Linked DNA regions of Homo sapiens. The protein of the gene in region 4 purifies or fractionates together with the protein of the main gene of each other region. This does not show direct contact. Each region holds a gene or a part of one and is shown on either strand. Other genes may lie near its edges.

What was found.
Region 1: the proteins of PRIMPOL (region 4) and TWNK purify together in Homo sapiens (affinity purification with mass spectrometry; 2 studies listed by BioGRID and IntAct, with this or other methods). This does not show direct contact.
Region 2: the proteins of PRIMPOL (region 4) and RSPRY1 purify together in Homo sapiens (affinity purification with mass spectrometry; one large-scale study listed by BioGRID and IntAct). This does not show direct contact.
Region 3: the proteins of PRIMPOL (region 4) and TIPIN purify together in Homo sapiens (affinity purification with mass spectrometry; one large-scale study listed by BioGRID and IntAct). This does not show direct contact.

The regions. Positions count from the first base shown.
Region 1 is NC_000010.11:100,990,337-100,996,584, forward strand, and holds the end of TWNK (twinkle mtDNA helicase), read left to right. Parts: intron 1-99; coding exon 100-207; exon of another isoform or gene 208-327; intron 328-532; coding exon 533-674; coding exon of another isoform or gene 675-689; exon of another isoform or gene 690-718; intron 719-2,853; coding exon 2,854-3,174; 3' UTR 3,175-4,067; downstream 4,068-6,248.
Region 2 is NC_000016.10:57,203,329-57,208,356, forward strand, and holds part of RSPRY1 (RING finger and SPRY domain-containing protein 1 isoform 1 precursor), read left to right. Parts: intron 1-1,175; 5' UTR 1,176-1,330; coding exon 1,331-1,680; coding exon of another isoform or gene 1,681-1,684; exon of another isoform or gene 1,685-2,053; intron 2,054-4,264; coding exon of another isoform or gene 4,265-4,357; intron 4,358-4,729; coding exon 4,730-4,782; intron 4,783-5,028.
Region 3 is NC_000015.10:66,353,886-66,357,966, forward strand, and holds the start of TIPIN (TIMELESS-interacting protein), read right to left. Parts: upstream 2,801-4,081; 5' UTR 2,754-2,800; exon of another isoform or gene 2,258-2,753; intron 237-2,257; exon of another isoform or gene 113-236; intron 1-112.
Region 4 is NC_000004.12:184,654,008-184,662,383, reverse strand, and holds part of PRIMPOL (DNA-directed primase/polymerase protein), read right to left. Parts: intron 5,303-8,376; 5' UTR 5,244-5,302; coding exon 5,064-5,243; intron 3,045-5,063; coding exon 2,947-3,044; intron 611-2,946; coding exon 481-610; intron 1-480. UniProt on the Homo sapiens protein: DNA primase and DNA polymerase required to tolerate replication-stalling lesions by bypassing them.

The DNA.
Region 1 (6,248 bases), on a different chromosome or scaffold from region 4:
GGCAGAGGAGGCAGCCAAGAGAGTTTTCAGGATGCTAGTTCTTCTGCCTGGGGTGGTCTAGAGACAACTTGTCAAATTCCTTGCCTTTCCTCTTCCCAGGACTGTAATAGATACAATGCAACATGCAGTCTACGTCTATGACATTTGTCATGTGATCATCGACAACCTGCAGTTCATGATGGGTCACGAGCAGCTGTCCACAGACAGGTGACGGTGACATCCTCTCTTGTCTAGCTTGAGCCCGCTTGGACATACAACACACACTTCTCAGGCAGCTGGCCTCTAGGCACACATGCTGTGCTCTCCTATTTTCTGAGATGTGTGCAGGCACGTACCACCCCCATGTGTATCATATGGAGGTGTGGGGTATGGCAGCAGGATGTATGGACAGGGATCTGAGTGTGAGTCCTTGGGTAGAGGGAGGTAGAGTGGGTTGTGGTAGTTTGTGGGGAGATGTGAATGGATCAAGAGTATGTGTATGTTCTTGTCCTTCTGTGTCTGATAAGCTCTTTGTGTTGTTGGGATGGCGTAGGATCGCAGCTCAAGACTACATCATCGGGGTCTTTCGGAAGTTTGCAACAGACAATAACTGCCATGTGACACTGGTCATTCACCCCCGGAAAGAGGATGATGACAAGGAACTGCAGACAGCGTCCATTTTTGGCTCAGCCAAAGTGAGTGGCCTTTAGCGGAGCTCAAGCTTTGGAAAATAGAGTGGGTAGGTGTGACCAGGGACAGCCCTCATTCAGCCTTAATCGTCTTGACTGTCCATCCGAACAGGCAGGAGGCAATGCCTCTGGGGCCATGACATGAGGAATATATGTGCTGGAAATACAAAGGCTGATAGTTGGTTCTTATGCTCTTCTTGTCCCCCAGGAGCTCACATCCTCTCCTGGGGAAACAGTAAGACAGTGATTGCAATTCAGTATGATAAGAGTATGATAGGCAGCACAAGTATTTGGAGAGCAAAGAGAAAAGATGTCTGAGTCAGCCCGGGACATCTGGGAGACTTCCAGAGGAGGTGACAACAAAGGTTGGGTTGAGGTTTGGTAGACAATGGGTATTAGACAATCAGATAAATGTGAGGGCCTTCTGGGCATCAGGACCAGCCCAATCCTGGAGCTTCTAGTGTTACACTGAATGCCTATTACATACGAGGCCTGGGCTGGGCCTAGGGAATTCAGAGCAAGGAGCACAAATCATGTGCCATGATGGAACAAACATGGAGCTGGGAAAGAGAGTAATGCAGAAGTGGAAAAATGGCAGGGTACAGTGGATCACACCTGTAATCTCAACACTTTGGGAGGCTGAGGCAGGAGGATTGCTGGGGCCCAGGAGTTTGGCAATCTGAGCAATGTAGTGAGACCCTGTCTCTACAAAAATATTTGAAAATTGGCCAGGCGTGGTGGCTCACGCTTATAATCCCAGCACTTTGGGAGGCCAAGGCGGGTGGATCACGAGGTCAGGAGATCGAGACTATCTTGCTAACATGGTGAAACCCTGTCTCTACTAAAAATACAAAAAAAAAAAAAAATTAGCCGGGCGTGGTGGCAGGCACCTGTAGTCCCAGCTACTTGGGAGGCTGAGGCAGAATGGCGTGAACCCGGGAGGCGGAGCTTGCAGTGAGCGGAGATCGCGCCACTGCACTCCATCCTGGGTGACAGAGTGAGACTCCGTCTCAAAAAATATATATATATAATATATATATATTTAAAAATTAGCTGGGCATGGTAGCATGCACCTTTGGTCCCAGCTACTCAGGAGGCTGAGGTGGGAGGATTGCTTGAGCCTGGGAGGTTGAGACTGCAGTGAGCCGTGCTCACACCACTGCACTCCACTCCAACCTGGGCAGCAGAGTGAGACCCTATCTTTTTTTTTTTTTTTTTTTTTTTTTTGAGACGGAGTCTCGCTTTGTCACCCAGGCTGGAGTGCAGTGGCGCGATCTCGGCTCACTGCAAGCTCCACCTCCCAGGTTCAAGTGATTCTCCTGCCTCAGCCTCCCAAGTAGCTGGGACTACAGGCATGTGCCACCACACCCGCCTAATTTTTTGTATTTTTTTAGTAGATACGGAGTTTCACCGTGTTAGCCAGGATGGTCTCAATCTCCTGACCTCATGATCCGTCCGCCTCGGCCTCCCAAAGTGCTGGGATTACAGGCGTGAGCCACCGTGCCCAGCTGAGACCCTGTCTTTAAAAAAAAAAAAAAAAAAAAAAAAAGAATGGTCTCCTTCATGAGATGTGACATTTAGACTGAGACCTAAAAGAGAAGAAGCTGAGGTTGAGTGGGGTGGCCCGCTGTGGAGAAGGAGAGGGAACAGCACAGGCAGCGTCTGAAACAGTAGCAAGCTTGTCAGGGAACTGAAAGATTTGAGTGGCCCCAGCATCGTGGTCAGTAGTTCAAAGAGCTTTGGTCATGGGGGGAAGTACTTTTCCCTCTCCCATTCTTTCTCTTTTTTTTTTTCTTTTTTGAGACGGAGTCTCGCTCTGTTGCCCAGGCTGGAGTGCAGTGGCACAATCTTGGCTCACTGCAACCTCCGCCTCCCGGATTCAAGCGATTCTCCTGCCTCAGCCTCCCAAGAAGCTGGGACTATAGGTGCATGCCACCATGCCCAGCTAATTTTTTGTATTTTTAGTAGAGATGGGGTTTCACCGTGTTAGCCAGGATGGTCTTGATTTCCTGACATCGTGATCCACTCGACTCGGCCTCCCAAAGTTCTGGGATTACAGGCGTGAGCCATTGTACCCAGCCCCTCTCCCCATTCTTATCACTCCTCCCTGCCCTGTCAGCCCCCCTTTCTGCTTTGCTCATGTCCTCTTACTCCTGCTTTCCTCCTTCTGCCCCCTGTTCCCCAGGCAAGCCAGGAAGCAGACAATGTTCTGATCCTGCAGGACAGGAAGCTGGTAACCGGGCCAGGGAAACGGTATCTGCAGGTGTCCAAGAACCGCTTTGATGGAGATGTAGGTGTCTTCCCGCTTGAGTTCAACAAGAACTCCCTCACCTTCTCCATTCCACCAAAGAACAAGGCCCGGCTCAAGAAGATCAAGGATGACACTGGACCAGTGGCCAAAAAGCCCTCTTCTGGCAAAAAGGGGGCTACGACACAGAACTCTGAGATTTGCTCAGGCCAGGCCCCCACTCCCGACCAGCCAGACACCTCCAAGCGTTCAAAGTGAAGGCCGTGCAGAGCTGGTCACTGAAATGAGCCTGATAGGATAGGCTGGAGCATAAAACTCTGCAAGGGCTCCTCTATCCTGTGGTCCTGAGCTGTGTGCCCTTCTCAGTCTGAGGGGCCTAACCTAGAGCAGGTTTCCATAGTGAGAAAATTCAATGTAGCAGACTACTGAGAAACTACTGTGTTGCTCAGGCTTTGTTTGAGGTCCTGTATATACAGCACTGAAAAGAGAGATAAAGTCCCTGCCTGCATGCATTCTGGCGGAAGAGACAAGCAAGCAATGAACAAATTAGCAGAAAACCTAGTTTTAGTGAAAAATGCTGTAAAGAAAATAGAAATGCGATAGAGTGCTGGCAGGCTAGTGTAGATAAGTGGTCTGAAAAGGTGTCTCTGAGCCGAGGGCATGTGAGCTGGGGCCTAAACAACTAGAAGGAGAGAGCCACGTGAACATCCGGCGAAGGGGACCCAGGCAGAGAGAAAAGGAAATCCAAGCCCTGAGGTAGGAATGAGCAGGTCAGATTCAAGGCAGTGAGGTCAGGCCGCATGAACCTGGAGGGGAATCGGGGACTTCATGCGAAACTCCAGCCTAGGCTTTCAAAGTCAAAGGGTGATACAGTGGGTACCAAGCTCCTCTGCTCCCCACTTTGTAGAGCCTAGCATGAGGTGGCATGTACTAGAATTGGATCCTAGGTGCTTAGCCCTGCAATATCAGGGCCTCACTGGTGGGAGCTGCCTCGGGCTGGGTTGCTTGGTCATAGAGCCATAGAAGGAAGCTGTCAGCCCGGAGTGCCTGCCACCTAGACACTGATGCCATTGTGTGCTGCCTCAAGACTGCTGGAGTCAGGACATTTTATAGAGCCTTTTCCAGTTTTACTAAAAAATTTTTCCATTGCCTTTGTTTCTGTGCTTTTTCTTATTCATCCACCAGGTGTCTCCCCAGTCCGTAGCTGAATTTCCCTTTCGGGATTGGGAATGGACGGGTCCCCTCCCACTGCTTGCAGCCTTTGAGCGGTGGGCTTCCAAGGAAGCAGGGACATTAAAGGGCCTTCACACCCCACCTTCCATTTACATCTCTTCTTGGCCTAGGGAAGACAAGATGATCTGTCCTCATACCTAACTTCCCTGAGGATCTCGAGTGATTCCTGGCACAGGTACTCATCACTGGGCCACATGAGCCCAGTGCCCTGCCTGACTGGCCATTCCTCTGTGATGTGAGCCACTCACCTCTCAAGTGGACTTAGACTCAACATATTCTGTCCACCCCCATCCATCTCCCTCCTGTACCCTCTCCGTGTTTCTCATATGCTAATGCGTGCCAGAACTCCTGGGGACTTGTGAAAAATGCAGAAACTAGGCCCCATTCTCCCCCCATCCTCCACCACGTACATTTCTCATTCTGGATTTGAGGACGGGTACAGTAATCCTCATTTTTAACAAGCCGTGGAGGAGACTGTAAAATAGGTGACCCAGAGGGACTGTCAGAAGTATTCCTAAATGATGACACCTTCTCATCTCTCGTCCTCTGATATCCCAAAGTCCCAGTTTCCCTTTGGATTTGCCTGAAAGAGTCGTGAGAATGCAATATGTTCTGAGGGGGCTGGGGAGAATCCTTTTGTAAGGGTTGGGGGAAGGTTTCCTGCTCCGTTTGGAAGCAGGGCTGCCTTGTCAGGCTCTTCCTTTCAACCTATGAAGGGGCTTCTGGGGCCGATGGAGGGGTCTGTGGTCTCTGGAGTGTGAGAACTCTGGTCACAAATGTCTCCTGAAACATCCGGAGCAAGGCTGCTGGAAAGCTGCTCTCTGTGAGGAAGAACCTGGGGGGGTGGGGAGAGCTCCTCCAGGGCCTCCCTTCTTGGGGGTCTCTCCCAGACTGGCTGGAGCCAGGCCTCCCTAATCCCGCAGTAATCATTCCCAGCCGTTGGCTGGTCTAGGCCTCATCCAGAGTCTGTAACGCTGAACGGCAGCCATGCCTTCCAGAGGCACAATACCATATCAGTCATACCTGTAAGGATGTGGGTTCCACATTCCTGTCTCCCTAGAATGCCTGGTGGGTTCTCAGGAGATCTTTTAGGGGTTTCCAGTAGGGGACCTTTGTGAGGTCTCTGTGAACTGGGGATAGAGGGATAGATACAGACTTGGCTGTTTGTCTTGCCCCACCCTTCTAGCAGACACCCCCACACAGCACAAACCAGAATGATGAGGGGGAGGGGAAGCTAATACTCCCCCCAGCCCTACCCGCTGCACAAACACGTTCTATTCCATACCTGCCTTAAATACCCCATATCATGATTCCACCCAGTCTGTTCAGATCCCTGGATTCTAGAAAGCAGTGGGGGGTCCCTAGGGCCTGTGCGGATTCCCTGGGATAGGACTGGTCTGTCTACACCCAACTGGATGTTAAGAATCTCCCTGACTCACAGGTTCGGTGGATTGGGAGGAAAAAAAAAAAATTTCCCTGAGATCTCAGGAAAGGCCTGGCTAAGCCAGGTCCAGTTGGATCTACAGCCTTGTCCTCTAATTGATAATGTATGTCACACTTGGCCATGAGGGGACAGCTTTGGTCCTCTGGCAGCTTCCTCTCTGCTGTGGATGGGTTTAAGAAGAAACAACTCGGCCGGGTGCGGTGGCTTACGCCTGTAATCCCAGCACTTTTGGAGGCCGAGGCGGGTGGATCACGAGGTCAGGAGTTTGAGACCAGCCTGGCCAATATGGTGAAACCCCGTCTCTACTAAAAATACAAAAATTAGCCGGGCGTGGTGGTGCGCGCCTCTAGTCCCAGCTGCTCTGGAGGCTGAGGCAGGAGAATCGCTTGAACCTGGGAAGCGGAAGTTGCAATGAGCCAAGATCGTGCCGCTGCATTCTGGGCGACAGAGCGAGACTCCGTCTCAAAAAACAACTCACCGAGGTCTCCTGTAGCCCATATGGGCCAGATACCTGTAGACCTTCCTACATGCTGCCTTGAGTGCCATGGTGGGAGGGAGCCCTTGGGGCCTCCCTGCAATACAGGCCAACTTCCTGTTTGTGCCTGTGGGTGGGACTTTATGAGTCTTCGAGAAGCCCAGCCATGCCCCGTGGGGG
Region 2 (5,028 bases), on a different chromosome or scaffold from region 4:
GAGTAATATTTCTCTTCTAATTCCACTGAATTATAAATTTTGTTTATATTATTCCTGGTCAGTGCTCAAGGTATGAGGAATTAATTGTAACTAGCCAGATGTTGTGTAGAGACTACACACTAGCATAGTCTATTCCTTATGTGGCCTGTTCTCCAGCTGTCAGCCTGTTTTGTTTGTTTGTTTGTTTTTTTACTTTTTGCTACCAGCCCATGTAAGTCTCCTATTTCTAAATCTTTACTTCCTTCCAGAATCTAACCAGATTTTACCAGCTTCTTGAAGAGCTGGTTCTTTCATTAGGTTTTTAATGATAAACATACTTTGTGGGATGAGAATGGCCATCCATGAATTCCTGGAGGGCAGGAACTATTCCTTACTCATCTTTATTCTCCTAGTCCAGCGTGGTACCTGGCACAAGGTCCTTAGTCAGTATTTTCAGGCAAAGATAAATTGGTGCATCTTATTCTGAACTTTGTAATAGACATGTGCAACAAACTGATCATTGTGAAAATACAACTTTTGTGATATCAGTTTTCCTTTCCCAAAACAAAGCCTTGCTTACATAACAGAAACACTTTGCAACAACTTGTATGAATTCTGTCAGTTCTTGAGTGAGCTTCCAATGGGAAACTCTATCCTTTTATTCTCCTTGATATCAAATGGTGCTATCATATTTGTATCATAACTTTTTTTTAACAACAAACGTCTGTAATTATTTTATTTAAAACTTGTTAAATTATCCTATGGGTTTAAAGAAAGGAGTTAATTCATTTTTTTAAAGATTTTTCTCTTTTTAACACCTACCTCTTACACAGAAAGACAACTCTTTTTTTATGATAAAAGGAGCCCTTGAAAAAAAATGCACACATCCTTCTAATGTATTTCTATATAGACAGGAAAAACTATACATGTGGTTTTAAAAAAATCAATGATAACTCCTCTGGTCTATAAGAATATGGTTTGGCAATCAACTTTGTAACAGAATGATAAAAAGAAATTATTGATTGATTGCGAATTCTGTTATCCAAAGCTATCTCTTTGTATTGGAAACCTATAAAAATAACCAAAGATAATTCTTCATTAGAATCCTAATATCTATAAAATCAGACTAGGAAAATTTGAGTAATTAAGTGGTCAAGAATCTTTTATTCATTTTCCTTTTTCTCATTTTCTTTTAGAACTGCCATTGGATGTCCAGAATCCCCTGTAGTTGATAATGTTGGGAATAAGCTCTGCAACTTTCTTTGGCATTCAGTTGTTAAAAACAAATAGGATGCAAATTCCTCAACTCCAGGTTATGAAAACAGTACTTGGAAAACTGAAAACTACCTAAATGATCGTCTTTGGTTGGGCCGTGTTCTTAGCGAGCAGAAGCCTTGGCCAGGGTCTGTTGTTGACTCTCGAAGAGCACATAGCCCACTTCCTAGGGACTGGAGGTGCCGCTACTACCATGGGTAATTCCTGTATCTGCCGAGATGACAGTGGAACAGATGACAGTGTTGACACCCAACAGCAACAGGCCGAGAACAGTGCAGTACCCACTGCTGACACAAGGAGCCAACCACGGGACCCTGTTCGGCCACCAAGGAGGGGCCGAGGACCTCATGAGCCAAGGAGAAAGAAACAAAATGTGGATGGGCTAGTGTTGGACACACTGGCAGTAATACGGACTCTTGTAGATAAGTAAGTATCTGACTCACGGTCACCTCCAGTGGAATGAAAAGTGTTCTGCCCGGAACCATGACTTTAGGACTCCTTCAGTTCCTTTAGGACATACTCGCCAAGCCTTGTGCTCACAGGGCAAAGGAGAATATTTTAATGCTCCGCTGATGGCAGAGTAAATGATAAGATTTGATGTTTTTGCTTGCTGTCATCTACTTTGTCTGGAAATGTCTAAATGTTTCTGTAGCAGAAAACACGATAAAGCTATGATCTTTATTAGAGAATAGAGTAAATATGGAGTGAGTTTATGTTGCTAGCTACAATAGGAAATGGTTTCATGAAGGCTCACTGTTAATGGTACATGCCTGTCTATTCCACTGACCTCAGATTCAAGGTAAGTTGTTTTACCAAGAACATGGCTACAGGCAACTTCTCTTGGCAACATAAGGACTAAGGTCAAGGAGAGTTTTCATTATCCTTTATTTGATCCTTTATCCCTTATTTGACTATCTTTAATCCATTTAGGAAGCTTGTCAGTTGATACTGCAAGGCACACCTGTACCTGTTTTGTCTTTTCCTCTGCTTTGTCTACCTCTAAATACAAAATCATAGATTGAATAACAGTGAAATTAAAGGGCATCCAAGTAGAAAAAAACATTTAACTTAAGGTTGTATATTTCAGTAGTTAAGAGCACAAAGCTTAGAACCATGATGGGCCTAGCTCAAGTTCTGGCCCAGTGCCTTACTAACTGCATGACATTGGGTAAGTTACTTCTTGAAGCCTCAGATTCCTCATCTGTAAATGGGGGGATAATATTGTTCCCACAAGGATTATCATGAGATAATGTACATAAGGCATTCAGTGTGGAGCTTTGTACTTAACAGTTGCTCAGTAGATGGTAGTATTTTTTAAAAAGTTACTTATGTGTTCTTTTTGCTTCAGGCCCTGCTAGTAAATTTAAGTATATAAACATTTGATAATCGCATTTATAGAAACCCAGTTTCGTTTAGTTCCTCAAAAATTAAGCATAAAACAGAGTGTACCTGTGAATACAAACGAATTTTTAGAGCTGTATTAAACTTTTCCATAAAATACTGGAGCATTTGTTAGTCTTCGAGAAGAATAATTTTTTGGCCAGACACAATGGCTCATACCTGTAATTCCAACACTTTTGAGAGGCTGAGGTAGAAAGATAGCTGGAGGCCAGGAGTTCAAGACCAGCCTAGGCAACATAGGGAGATCCCATCTCTGCAAAAAAAATTTAAAAATTATCCAGGTACAGTGGCACTTGCCTGTGATCCCAGCTACTCAGGATTCTAAGACCGGAGTACTGCTAGAGTCCAGGAGTTTCCAGCTGCAGTGAGCTATGATCACACCACTGCACTCCAGCCTGGGCAATAGAGCAAGACCCTGTCTCAAAAATTAATTAATCAAAAAAAATTTTTTAAATCCCTTGTACCAAATTGTAATAAAAGTTATCCTTCCCAAATAAGGAAGTAAACCACAAACAATGTTAATTTAAGCTCATTGGAAAAATGGGTGCAGAATAGACTTTGAGAGAGAGAGTTTTTTTGTTTTGTTTTGTTTTTAAAGAGACAGGGTCTCACTTTGTCACCCAGGCTGGCGTACAGTGGCGTGATCATGACTCACTGCAGCCTCAGCCTCCTGGACTCAAACCATCCTCCCACCTCAGCCTCCTAAGTAGCTTGGACTACAGGCGTGTGCTACTGCACCTGGCTAATTTTTAAAAAAGTTTTTGTAGAGCCAGGTCTTGCCATGTTGCCCAGGCTGGTCTCAAATACCTGGACTCAAGCGATTGTCGAGCTTCAGCCTCCTTAAGTGCTGGGATTGCAGATGTGAGCCCCCACGCTTGGCCCCTTGCAATATTTTAAAAGAGAGTGACATAGTTATACAAACCTCTTTGTTTTTAACTTTTCTCAACATCGAAATCTGTGTTACTGTATATAAATCTACAACTGCTTCTGACTATTACAGAGTATTCCCTTGTATGCCTGAAAGTATTATATTTTGTTACATTTTCATCTGGTGATGGTCACTTAGGTTACTGCCAAATTTTTGTTCTTACAAACAGCACTGCAGTGAACAGCGCAAATATGCATTGATTTTTGGACCTGTGTAAAAATTTATCTACAACTGTTGGGTATATGCATACTTAATTTTATTATTGCCAGATCATTCTTCAGAAATACTTGCATCAGTCAATTATATTGTTTAAACAGGCAGCACCTAATGAGTACCTGAAATGACCATACTAATTCCCATATCACAAGGTTATTCTCTGGATTAAATGACTTAAGATGATAGTTTTTGGGGCTTTTTTTTTTTCCACACTAAAACAGAGACCCACAATATGTAAACAAATAAGTGGTGAGTTCTTAAGCAGTTAGAATTGTTTAATGGAAAACATCTCATTATTGAAGTTCCCCTGAAGGACTTTTTAAAGATTTCTGGGATCACACCACTGAATTAAGGTGTATAATGCCACTTTGGAGCAATGTCTAGAATGTTAAGTAGTTCCTTAAGTTTGGTTTTGTTTCTTGTAATACCATTTTATGAAGTCTAAGCATGTAGTGGTATTTCCAGAAGAAAACTTCAAAATGAAGATGCGTATATAGGCCCTTGCTTCCATAAGTCCTCAACCGGGATTGTCGTCTCTCTTCCTGGCATTTCTCTGAGGTAAGTATGAAGGTGATGTTGACCTTCCTGGCTTGTCTCAGTTGGCACTGGGCCTCTGAGTGTAAAGCTGAGAGTAGGCTGTGATCTCCAGTTTTACTCCTGTGCTTTTACCCCAGGACACATAGTAGTCTTTGTCTGTATCCACCTGCCCATTTTGTCTGTGGGTCATTGTGGACAGTGACTGGAAATGAGCACATATGGTATACATTCATCCTTACAGGTCATAGCTCAGGTTGTCTCTTCTATCTCTTTCCTTACATTTGTGTTCATTTCTTCTGTCCCTTTTTACCTCCACACCTCCAGTTTGAATTCTTATTTGGAATTGTCATTTATTATTTCCTCAGGTTTAATGCCTTGAATTTTTTTTTCCAGTGATCAGGAACCTCCCTATTCAATGATAACATTACACGAAATGGCAGAAACAGGTATTTTTAGTTTTGTTTTCATTACTTTATAATGAATATATAATAATGAAGAAAAGTAGCCACCTTTTGTTTTTTGTTTTGTTTTGTTTTGAGATAAAAGACTCCAAAAATACAGCATACATAACAATGAAAAAAGCCCTTACTGTATGGAAATTTCCCTGAATAGGTATAATAGGCAATGCATATTATACCTTTTTTTTTTTTTTTTTTTTTTTGGCATTGATGGATCTTTCACCATACTGTTCT
Region 3 (4,081 bases), on a different chromosome or scaffold from region 4:
AGAGGCAGACGGACCATGAGGTCAGGAGTTCGAGACCAGCCTGGCCAACACAGTGAAACCCCGTCTCTACTAAAAATATAAAAAAAATTTAGCCAGGTGTTGTGGCACGCACCTGTAGTCCCAGCTACTCAGGAGGCTGAGGCTTTCCTCCCTTTCTGGGCACTCCTCCTGGATTTTCTTTGCAGGTTTATCTTCTACCCCGGCCATTAAGTATCCAAGACTCCATCCTAGGGCTTCTTCATTCATTTATGCACAGAGCTTTAATAAGTACTGATTTATAGATGACTCCCTGATTTTTATCTCTACCCTAGGCCTTGACTCTGCGATCCAGATCACTACTTCCCATTTTACACTTCCTAAACGCCTGAAAGGCACCTGTAACTCAGCAGGTACAAAACCAAACTTCTAAATTTTCCTAACTCATTAAATGACATCTATCCAGCTATGCAATTCAGAAACCTACAAGTCATCTTTAGCAATTCCTTCCCCTATCCCACAGATCCTGCCCATCTTATTTCCTAAATATCCCTTGAATCTGTCTATTTCTCCTTATCTCTATAACCACTTCCCAACATTTCTTGCTTGCATTACTCCACTACTCTCATCCACTCGTCTCCTTCAATTGTCCCTATTACATCTAGACTGAATCTGAAAATATAAAGCTGATCACCTCACTTGGATTAAGTATTTCAATGGTTTCTGATTGCTCTTAAGATAAAGACAAAACTTCAAGGCCCTGTGTGATCCAGCCTCTTACTACCTCACCAGTCTCACTTCACACTACTCTATGCTTTTTCTTTCCTTGAAAGAGCTATATCCCTCAGGCCACTGGCTCTTTACAAATACTATTTCCTGTCTTGAAAAAGCTATTCCTTGACTCCTAATATCTTCCAGATCTCAACTATCACCTTTTCAAAAGTTTACCTCAATTTCTCTAAATCCTTCTTTAGTAAGCATTCATAGTGTCAAGTACAAGTGTCATGGCACTTATCCAGTTTCAATATCAGGTTTTATTTATACAGTTATTTATTGTTCGTCTCCCAAACTAGACTGTAGCTCAAAAAGGGCAACGAGGTTAAGTCTCTCTGTGTTACACAGCTGGAACCCCAATGCTGTTACACAGCAAGTGCTCAATATATATCTTTTTTTTTTTTTTTTTTTTTTGAGAAGGAGTCTCGGGCTCTGTCACCCAGGCTGGAGTGCAGTGGCGCGATCTCTGCTCACTGCAAGCTCCGCCTCCCGGGTTCTCGCCATTCTCCTGCCTCAGCCTCCCGAATAGCTGGGACTACAGGCGCCTGCCACCACGCCCGGCTAATTTTTTGTATTTTTCATAGAGACGGTGTTTCACCGTGTTAGCCAGGATGGTCTCGATCTCCTGACCTCGTGATCCGCCCGCCTCGGCCTCCTAAAATGCTGGGATTACAGGCGTGAGCCATCGCGCCCGGCCCCAGGTGCTCAATATATATTTGATGAATGATGGAATGCAAAAAAAAATTCCAGTTTCCCCAAATTGGAGTTAGACGATCTTTAAAATCTCACTAATTCTAAATTTCGGTTACCATAAATATAAAAGCAAAGCATCGGCTGGGCGCGGTGGCTCACGCCGGTAATCCCAGCACTATGGGAGGCAGAGGCGGACGGATCATGAGGTCAGGAGTTCGAGACCAGCCTGGCCAACACAGTGAAACCCCATCTCTACTAAAAATACAAAAAAAATTAGCGGGGCGTGGTGGCACACGCCTGTAGTCCCAGCTACTCGGGAGGCTGAGGCAGGAGAATCATTTGAACCCAGGAGGCGGAGCTTGCAGTGAGCCGAGACCGCGCCACTGCACTCCAGCCTGAGCGAAAGAGCGAGACTCCGTTTCAAAACAAAAACAAAGCATCAATTCCTGATCATGACCCACTGTAACTTCAAGCAAGCTACAAGAATCTATACTAGGGTTCAGACCTTTGAGGCTGACAGCGAGCTTTGAGTTTGATGACAGTACCTAAAATATATTAAGTGTACTCAGGAACTGGCCAAGCATGGGGTGGGGCTTGTCAGGAAACTGGTATTTCTTTCTTCTATTTGTAGTGAATAAGATGCTCAATAGACGACTTTTACTCCTCGTCAATGGTCGCATAACTGTCTCTTTTTAGACACTTATGAAATTGTCTGAACTTCCTCCTCTACTTCTCCAACTCCCAGAAGAGTGAAGGTAACAAATGTTATGTCCAAACCACGGTTTGTTCCCAGACCCTGGTTTCCAATGCCCACCTCTTTTCCAAGAAGTCCAAAGAGACGCCCCTCATCGCAAAGGAAGTGCTACCGTGCTGCCTCGATGTCCCCCTTGGGTGCCATCCCTGAAACATCGAACCTCCCATACCTCTTCTCCAGCCGTCCCCCTCATCCTCGTTCCCCGCCTACCCTCTCTTCAACTTCATTCATTCATCCAACATTCGCTGGGGGATTTCTACATTGACACGCCCCGGACAGAAGCCTGGGGTAAAGATGATCAGGAACACGTTCCCTCCCGCTAAGCGGCTTGGCAGAGTAAGAGGCATCCCAAAACCTAAGCAACCGGGACACGCGCCCACCTCCCCGCCTCTCCAGGCCGGGTCAGGTCGACCCCCCAACCTCCTGACCCCCTTCCTGCGACAATTAGGCTTTCCCGCTAGTCTGTCTGGCTCCCTGGCTCTTCCATCTGGCTCCCTGGCTAGTCCGACTCCCCTCTCCCCGCAAGAACTTCATTGGCCCGCCAGCCAGCTCTCACCTCACGCAGAAAACACGGGACACAGCGCGGACCTCGGCGTGCAGACTAAGCGCGCTTCTCGCGATACTCGGGAACTCCTGGGGCGAGAAGGGCCCGCAGCGTTTGGCGCCAAATCCGTGCGGGGGGCTGGGCGGAGCCTGCAAAACCCGCCTCTCAGGTTCCGCCCAGCACGCCGGTCCCGCCTTCGGTCCCACAATTTCCGCCCTACTGAATTCTTCAGAGGAACTCAGTTAAGCCTCCTTATTTGCATAAAGTTAATACTTGTTATTCTGGGGTTTTTCTTTTTTTTTTTTCTTGAGACTAAGTCTCGCTCTATCACTCAGGCTGGAGAGCAGTGATTCGATCTCGGCTGACTACAGTCTCTACCTCCCGGGCTGAAACGATCCTCCCACCTCAGCCTCCCTTCCCCGACTAACACCACCACACCGAATTTTTGTTTTAATGGGTTTTTGTTTGTTTGTTTGTTTGTTTTGCAAAGACGGGGATTAGTTGCCCAGGCTGGTGTCGAACTCCTTAGCTCAAGCGATCTTCCCACCTCAGCTTCCCAAAGTGCTGGGATTACAGGCGTGAGCCACTGTGCCCGGCACTTTAAACCTTGGAAATAGGTCTCGGTTTTTGGAAAACTGAGTTGTGGGAGGAGGAAAAAGGACAGAGGCAAGCAATAGTGAATAAGAAATTACCGCTTCTTCAGAGTTCATAGCAGAATGCTTCGAACTCAGAGTTTTATGAATTGTTTATTGAATAATAAGCTGAGAAAAGAGGTGGTAAAGAGAGGAAAAATAGGGCTGAACATAGACACTGGCCAGGTGCGGTGTGGCTCGCCTGTAATCCCAGCACTTTGGGAGGCCCAGGCAGGCGAATGGCTTGAGCCCAGAAGTTGAAGGCGGCAGTGACTAGGATCGCACTGCTGGCGATCCAGCTGGAGATCCAGTCTGGGTGACAGTGAGATCTTGTCGCAAAAAAAAAAAAAAAAAAAAAAAAAAAAGCGAGAGAGTGTGAATGTAAACAAAAAAAAATGTCAAAAATATGTTACTTGGGGCCGGGTGCAGTGGCTCACGCCTGTAATCCCAGCACTTTGGGAGGCCGAGGCGGGCAGATCACGAGGTCAGGAATTCGAGACCAGCCTAGCCAACGTGGTGAAACCCCATCTCTACTAAAAATACAAAAATTAGCCGGGCGTGGTGGCGCGCACCTGTAATTCCAGCTACTTAGGAGGCTGAGGCAGGAGTATCACTTGAACCTGGGAGGCAGAGGTTGCAGTGAGCTGAGATCATGCCATTGCACTCCGGCCTGGGCGACGGAGCAAGACTCTGTCTCAAAAAAAAAAA
Region 4 (8,376 bases):
GTTTCGTCTGGGCCTTAATTTCCTCATTTTGAAAGGGACAAGATAAGATGATTTCCAAAATTCCTGCAAGCTTGAAAATTCTAATACTATTTGTAGTCAGTGTTCTTGAGGTTCATCTCAGTACCCAATTTTTACAGTAAAAATTATTTTGCCTGGTTTTACCAAAGTCAGCTATTCGTAATGGAAGTCAGAGAATTAATATATAATTTTAAAATATAGAAAATTTTCAAACTGACATCTTTTTCAAAGCATTTTTTTTACCAGACAGCAAAATTGCAAACTATATGAACACAAATTGAACTTTCCTTCCTTTTCACAGTTTACTCATACAAGTAATATTAAAAAATCCTAAAGTCAAAAGGAAGAGTAGCAAGAAAAAGAAGAGATACAGAACCTACTATTATGTAGGCTGAATTCACTGAATGAATAAGCCAATGAAGAGATGGATAGAAATAAGAAAAACTTGAGTTGGCCATTTACCTCAATGAGTAATGCAACCATCTTTTTCCCATCAGCTCCTGGGTTGGCAGGTTTGTTAAATTCCAAATCAAAATAAAGCTTGCACACAGCATTTTCAGGAATAACTTCATAGCAGTGTAAGAGATTTTTTCTAAATTGAATAATTCAAGATTGTTAAATTGATATATTATACCTTTATTGATTGATTGATTGACTGACTGAGACTGAGTCAGCTCTGTTGCCCAGGCTGGACTGCAGTGGTGTGATCTCGGTTCACTGCAACCTCCTCCTCCTGGGTTCAAGCGATTCTCCTGCCTCAGCCTCCCGAGTAGCTGGGACTACAGGCACACGCCACCACGCCTGGTTAATTTTTGCATTTTTAGTAGACAGGGTTTACGCCATGTTGGCCAGGCTGATCTTGAACTCCTGGCTTCAAGTGATCCACCTGCCTCAGCCTCCCAAAGTGCTGGGATTACAGACATGAGCCACCACGCCCAGCCTCTATCTTATACCTTTTAAATCATGGCAGTCTATCTTACATTGCAAGTACTGTGTTAACTGTGCTTTCACTACATACAAGTATGAAATAAGAACATGATAAAATGAACTGTTCACCATAGGTTTATGGCTCATCTTATCAAGGGTTTCCATCAAGCAAAATGCAACAATTATATCCTGTAACATTATTTAACTAGAAAATACAGTCAATCTTACAGTGTTATTTATTCACAGATGAGTTTGATATTGTGTAATACCTCTATATTTGTTTTTAGTGTCACCATGAAACAAATTTTCTTTGAAAAAAAATGTTCTTTTCAGGATTCCATATTCTTGGGATTCCATGAATTTTCCATGAGAATTTTTAAATTCTGTATTTTCATTGGAAGATAATATTTTAAAAATTGCTTAAAAAATTCTGAATCACCTGACTTTGATAAGCTCCCAACGCTCATGTTTGCAGTTACATTCTTTCTGGCATTAAGAGGAATGACTTTGACATGGGTTAAATAGGGAGAGATGCTGACTTAATTTGCAAATGATAATTTGGGCTAAGTGATATTCAGATGGCATCCTATACAAATTAAGGACTTCTAGTAATTTGAAGAGGGAAAAGTTATGTGAAAATTGTATCATCAGGTGGTACAGGTAGTGGAGGAACTCAACACACACATACACATACATACATACACACCCTGTAGCAGTCAGTTCCATATTTACATGGGAAGATGAGACTGAGTTTCAGCAAAACATCTGTCACATTGTCTTAATGATTTTCATTCAACTCTAACTGGTGTTGCATGTATATCAACATAAATAAATCCAGTTTCATATTTGAAGCTACTTAGCAACATTTGAATAAAAGTATTCTAAATCAATATAGGGCATGCTAACAATTTACTCTCCTTTTCCACACATTACTCAAGTCTGAGAAATACTTGAATACGGCTGGGTGCGGTGGCTCATGCTGGTAATCCCAGCACTTTGGGAGGCCGAGGCAGGCAGATCATCTGAGGTCAGGAGCTCGAGAGCAGCCTGACCAATATAATGAAATCCCGTCTCTACTAAAAATACAAAAATTAGCCAGGCGTGGTGGCAGGCACCTGTAATCCCAGCTACTTGGGAGACTGAGACAGGAGAATTGCTTGAACTCAGGGAGGTTGCAGTGAGCTGAGATTGTGCCACTGTACTCCAGCCTGGGCAACAAGAGTGAAACTGTCTCAAAAAAAATTTTTTAAATTAAAAAAAAGAAAGAAAAAAAAAAAGAAATACTTGAATAGATCACTCAGTCAAAATAAAGCTAATAAGCCAGGTACAGTGGCTCACACCTGTAATCCCAACACTTTGGGAGGCCGAGGTGGGTGGATTACCTGAGGTCAGGAGTTCAAGATCAGCCTGGTCAACATGGTGAAACCCCGTCTCTACTAAAAACATAAAAATGAGCCAGGCATGGTGGTGGGCACCTGTAATCCCAGCAACTCGGGAGCCTGAGGCAGAACAACGACTTGCACTCGGGAGGCAGAGGCTGCAGTGAGCCGAGACCATGGCACTGCAGACCAGTCTGGGCAACAAGAGTAAAACTCCATCTCAAAAAAATTAAAAAATTAAAACTAAAGCTAATAACAAATAATTTAAAATAGTAATAATAAAGTCAAGATAAAGCAGATATTTCATTACTAGGTAAGTAACATAAATATTCCTTTGTGATTAATAGTATAATTTAATACCTGTTTGCAAAAGAGAAATTTCAAAACTCCCTTTGAGTACACGCATATATTCGTGTATGTGCATGATTATTTTCTCCCAGCACCTGGTGAGATACTCAAGCATTGCTATGACAAGAAAACTCCAGAATTCAATTCTAAGAGCAACTAATAGTGTGGTCACGAACTGTGGAAGCCAATTCAGCCTGAACTAATTTCACCAAAATTCCTAGGCAAAGGAAATGGAACTCTAGCTTAATGTGTGGTTCTGCTGCATGCTACCTACCTGGATTTATAGTAAAACCAAAATTCAGCATAGGTTGTCACAAGGTAAATACGTTGTCCATCTCCTACTTTGCATTCCAAAGCAAATACATGAACGTCCTGCATAAAATCAAAAAAGAATTCAGAAAAATTCACAAAATGCAAACCTAAACTCAACTGTAGCTACTGAATGTTCATAAAGAATTTTTCATTCAAGTTTTCAGAAACTGTAATTTGAACATTTGTATTATTAAAAACAAGACAAATAGTCACTAGGTTTATGCCATTCAAAATCTAATTATACCTATTTTTTAATCATTCATACAAAAGGTGAAAACAATTAGAATATGCAGACCAAAGAGAAAAAAGGAGAGAAACCACTCTTAAAAATATTACTTGTATGACTTCCTATGATAGTTTTATTTCTTAGTTTATGAAATTAAACTTATTTTTCAAAACTACTTATTATTATAAATGATTTGGGCTAAAATTGATTAGTAAATTCCCCAGTACATAAAAAAATGTATGTAGGAGCCTTTTTTTTTTTTTTTTGAAACAGAGTCTTGCTCTGTTGCCCAGGCCGGAGTGCAGTGGCGTGATCTCGACTCACTGCAACCTCTGTCTCCCAGGTTTAAGCGATTCTCCTGCCTCAGCCTCCCAAGTAGCTGGGATTACAGGTGCCCACCACCACGCCCGATTAATTTTTTGTATTTTTAGTAGAGACGAGGTTTCACCATGCTGGGCAGGCTGGTCTCGAACTCCTGACCTCAAAGTGATCTGCCTGCCTCAGCCTCCTAAAGTGCTGGGATTACAGGCATGAGCCACCGCACCCAGCCGGAACCATTTTTTTAAAGGTTAATTACTGCGGTAGTTGTTTAAATATAACTGCTCATGCCTCCTGCCATAAGGGTTCTTCTAATAGAGGAATACATCCACAAGTTCTTTTGTTTCCTCTTAGCTAAAGGTAGCTGGTGAGCATATTTTTCTTTTCATGAGTGAAAAATCACAGGACTCAGTTGCTTAACCCTAACAAAAACCTTTTTGAAATAAATTTTATAGACTGGTGATTAGCAAGTCCAACAAGCATACCCCTATCTATATCTTTTTAAAATTCAAGTTCAAATGAATCTGTCAGTATTTTAATTTCTGCTGCTTGAATTAGGTTTACCCAAAATGCCTAAGAAAGGTATTTCTTAAACCATTCTCATGAGATTTGAGTAAGCCTACCCTTACTAGAGAAAGAGAGGTCCTTCTAAAACTTCCAGCACTTGGAGATTTTATACAGCAACAGTGATCAGACTCACAGCACACTTATGCTATCATATAAGCATCTTATCGTTTCTTTCATATTTCTTTACATTCCCCACAGTGCCCCAAAAAAAAAAAAGAATGTGCAATACACATCTGTTGCTTGATTTAGTGATATTTATTTATTTATTTATTTATTTATTTATTTATTTATTTTTGAGATGGAGTTTCGCTCTTGTTGCCCAGGCTGGAGTGCAATGGCGCGATCTCGGCTCACAGCAAACTCCGCCTTCCGGGTTCAAGCCATTCTCCTGCCTCAGCCTTGGGAGTAGCTGGGATTACAGGCATACGCCACCACACCCGGCTAATTTTGTATTTATAGTAGAGACAGGGTTTCTCCATGTTGGTGAGGCTGGTCTCAAACTCCGGACCTCAGGTGATCCACCCGTCTCGGCCTCCCAAAGTGCTGGGATTACAGGCATGAGCCACCTCGCCCGGCCAGTGATTTTTATTTTTCAGCACCATGTTCTTTGAAAGGCTGACACTTCTTTCTCCTACTTGCTTACTGTGTTGAAATAAATATGGTTCCCCTCCCTCTAAGCATAAAGCTTCATTTAAATATCATCACAATTTTTAAAAACTAATTGGTACTAGATGTGTCATTCTTTTTCATTACTAATATAAATTAAATGGTTAATGATTCACAGGAATATTTTTCCTAAATCACATGCCATTAAGATTGCCATTAAATTTTCTTGGTAGAATACATGGCCTGAAATGAAGACAAATAATAGACTTTTTTTTTTAAAGAACTGAAATTATAATGAAGAAGAAGAAGAAAGAAGAGGAAGTGGAAGAGGAGGAAGAAGAAGAGGAGGAGGAGGAAATTACTTCTTTACAGCTTTTAACAAAATTAAAAGCTTGAGCTTGTCGATGAAATAGTCTCCAGATGGAGGGTGGTTCTTCTGGCTTGGACAATCTTGGTCTATACACTGAGGACAACGGTTTCCTCTCATAATGAGATGCTCGTTCTTCAATTTGCTTCAGTTTTGCTTCCCATTTTCTATTCATTGGTTCAGAAGTGTGGAGAGAATAAATCCTATCCCACGTAATATTTCTATCAATTACTACTAAAACAAACAACAAACAAAAAGGCCATTAATTTCTTTGTTTAGAATATATTTTGTTTGATAAAGTTTCAAAACTCACTTCCTGACACTTATTTTCTTGTTTATTCTTTGCATGAAGTTTTACCACAGAATGAGAGCAAGGCTGGTTATCAGAAATTCTTAGATCCTGGTTCTTCATCTAATGGTATTATGACCTTGGACAGGTTAATGAAGCGCCCTGAATCTTAGTTTAATCAACTGAAAAATGGGAATCAATATCATCTTGAGTACTTTATATACTTAGCTTGAAGATAAATGTGGTAAGACATAAGCAATCTCTAAATTACAAAGCCTCATGTAAATATATGTGCTTTTTGTATCACTGTGGTTTTTACTATAACCATTTTATTGTATCACGTGCTATGACCTTGTCCACCCATTCTTGTGCTATTATTTCTCAGTGTAGAATTCATTTCTAGATACCAATGTACAGCTCTTAGTTCCCTTTTCCTCTGTTTCTGTCCATGTCTCCTCTTCTCTCTCAACACAACTTTTAGTTGGGCTAGTTTTGGATGTCTGTAGTAATGGATGATTTTTCTTTCTATATAATACTTCCATGTCAACCACGCCAGAGTAAGGGGGCCAGGCAATAATTTTCCAATTTGGGATTATAATTCATTTACAAAAGAAAAAGAATAGGTTTTTAGAAGAGTGGGAAAACTTTCACTCTAGATTAAAAACAGCCAAATCAGCCACAAACCCCTTGCCATTTTTCCCATCAAGAGATGGCACCTAAACTCACTCTCGTACTGACTCTCAGCTTGGCCATATGACTTGTTTTGGGCCAACATCACATTGACAAAAGTGAAGCAAGCAGAGGTTTAACGAGTGCCTTTGCAGCAGACTTGGTTATCCCAGAGTCCTGCCCTGAGATTGCCATGCCATAACTCTAGCCTCATAGAGGATGAAAGCCCACATGGAAAAGAACCAAGGAATTGCAGCCAACAGCCAGCATAAGCAGTCTGATATGTGAGCTGGGCCATTCCGGACATCCAGCCGTCATCTGAATTCAACGCATTAGTAAGCCTGAGTCCCAGAGAGACCTATCAAACTGCCCAGCCAACCCACAGAGCTATAAGAAAAAAATAAATTTGGTTGTTTTGTCTTTTTTAAGCCAGTAAGTTTGGGGCTGGCTTTGACATAGAAATAGGTAATTAATAGAGTTCCTCTCTTCATTAATATCATCTCTGCCATAATTTACCTATGTGGAAAACAGATATATTGGGGCTTTTTTGAAGTGAAATAATATGTACTAAATCATTTAACAGTGAAGTCCTATTTCTTTGGTAACACATTTGTGCTTATTGAGTTGATAAACATTGTCTTGAATTTTAGCAGAAAACTTTGCAGCAACACAAACTCATTGGCAAATGAGTATTTCCTGGAAGGAAAACCAGAATCTCCCTAAAAGATTAAGAAAGGGGGCCAGGCGCGGTGGCTCCTGCCTGTATTCCCAGCACTTTGGGACGCTGAGGCGGGTGGATCATGAGGTCATGAGTTCGAGACCAGCCTGACCAAGATGGTGAAACCCCGTCTCTACTAAAAATACAAAAATTAGCTGGGCATGGTGGTGGGCACCTATAATCCCAACTACTCGGGAGGCTGAGGCAAGAGAATAGTTTGAACCAGGAGTGGAGGTGCCAGTGAGCCGAGATCGCACCACTGCACTCCAGCCTGGGTGACAGGGCAAGACTCCATCTCAAAAAAAAAAAAAAAAAGATTACGAGAGGGTAGACCAGGCGCCGTGGTTCATGCCTGTAATCCCAGCACTTTGGGAGGCAGAGGAGGGCGGATTACCTGAGGTCAGGAGTTCGAGACCAGCCTGACCAATATGGTGAAACCCCGTCTCTACTAAAAATACAAAAATTAGCCAGGCGTGGTGGCGGGCACCTGTAATCCCAAATACTTGGGAGGCTGAGACAGGAAAATTGCTTGAACCCAGGAGGCAGAGATTGCAGTGAGCTGAAATTATGACACTGCACTCTAGCCTCCTGAGTAGCTGGGACTACTCCATCTCAAAAGAAAAGAAAAAAAAAAGGGATAGTACATCATGACCTTGTTAGAAAAAAAACAAAGGCATATTATCCGCAGATTTCAAATTTGACATCAATCGTAACAGACCTAAGAAAGATATTCTCTCAGAGTTATACCTAATCCACATATAAAGTATATACTAGGAAACAGAAATATAATTCTAAAGGTACTAACATAAATTTCATAACAGGTATGCTTAGGGAAAATATCAATTCACTGGATGGAGGAGATGAAGCAATTTTTTTAAAAACTGCTTCAGCCGGGCGCGGTGGCTCACGCTTGTAATCCCAGCACTTTCGGAGGCCAAGGCAGGCGGATCACAAGGTCAGGAGATCGAGACCATCCTGGCTAACACAGTGAAACCCTGTCTCTACTAAAAATACAAAACAAATTAGCTGGGCGTGGTGGTGGGTGCCTGTAGTCCCAGCTACTCAGGAGGCTGAGGCAGGAGAATGGCGTGAACCCGGGAGGCAGAGCTTGCAGTGAGCCAAGATCGTGCCACTGCACTCTAGCCTGGGCAACGGAGCGAGACTCTGTCTCAAAAAAAAAAAAAAACTGCTTTAACTTGTCAATACAAAGTGATATGGCTCCTTATTGCTAGATTCTGAGTATTCAGTTACTTTGATCTGCTTCACGTGCAGCTAAAAATCTGCTATACTTAGATAAACCTAATTGAGAAACTGACTTTCTATCATGAAGTTTATTAACTTTTAACAAAGTCCATTGATTATTAGTGAAGAAAATAAATACAGAATGCAATCACATCTGAATCTAGCTAGTATCTACCAATAACTGACTACAAATGACTATGTGGATATTCGTACTTCGTGACACTGAAATTTTATCATGAAAAATTGTTTGATTTTGTAAAAGTCTTGGTAGGACCACGGGAGTATGTCATACAGGAACATCATGGAGTCACAATGAAAAAACAGCTTAAGACTCACTGAACTGGGGAAACCATGAGCATCAACAGAAGAAGAAAGAGAAGTTCAGTATAT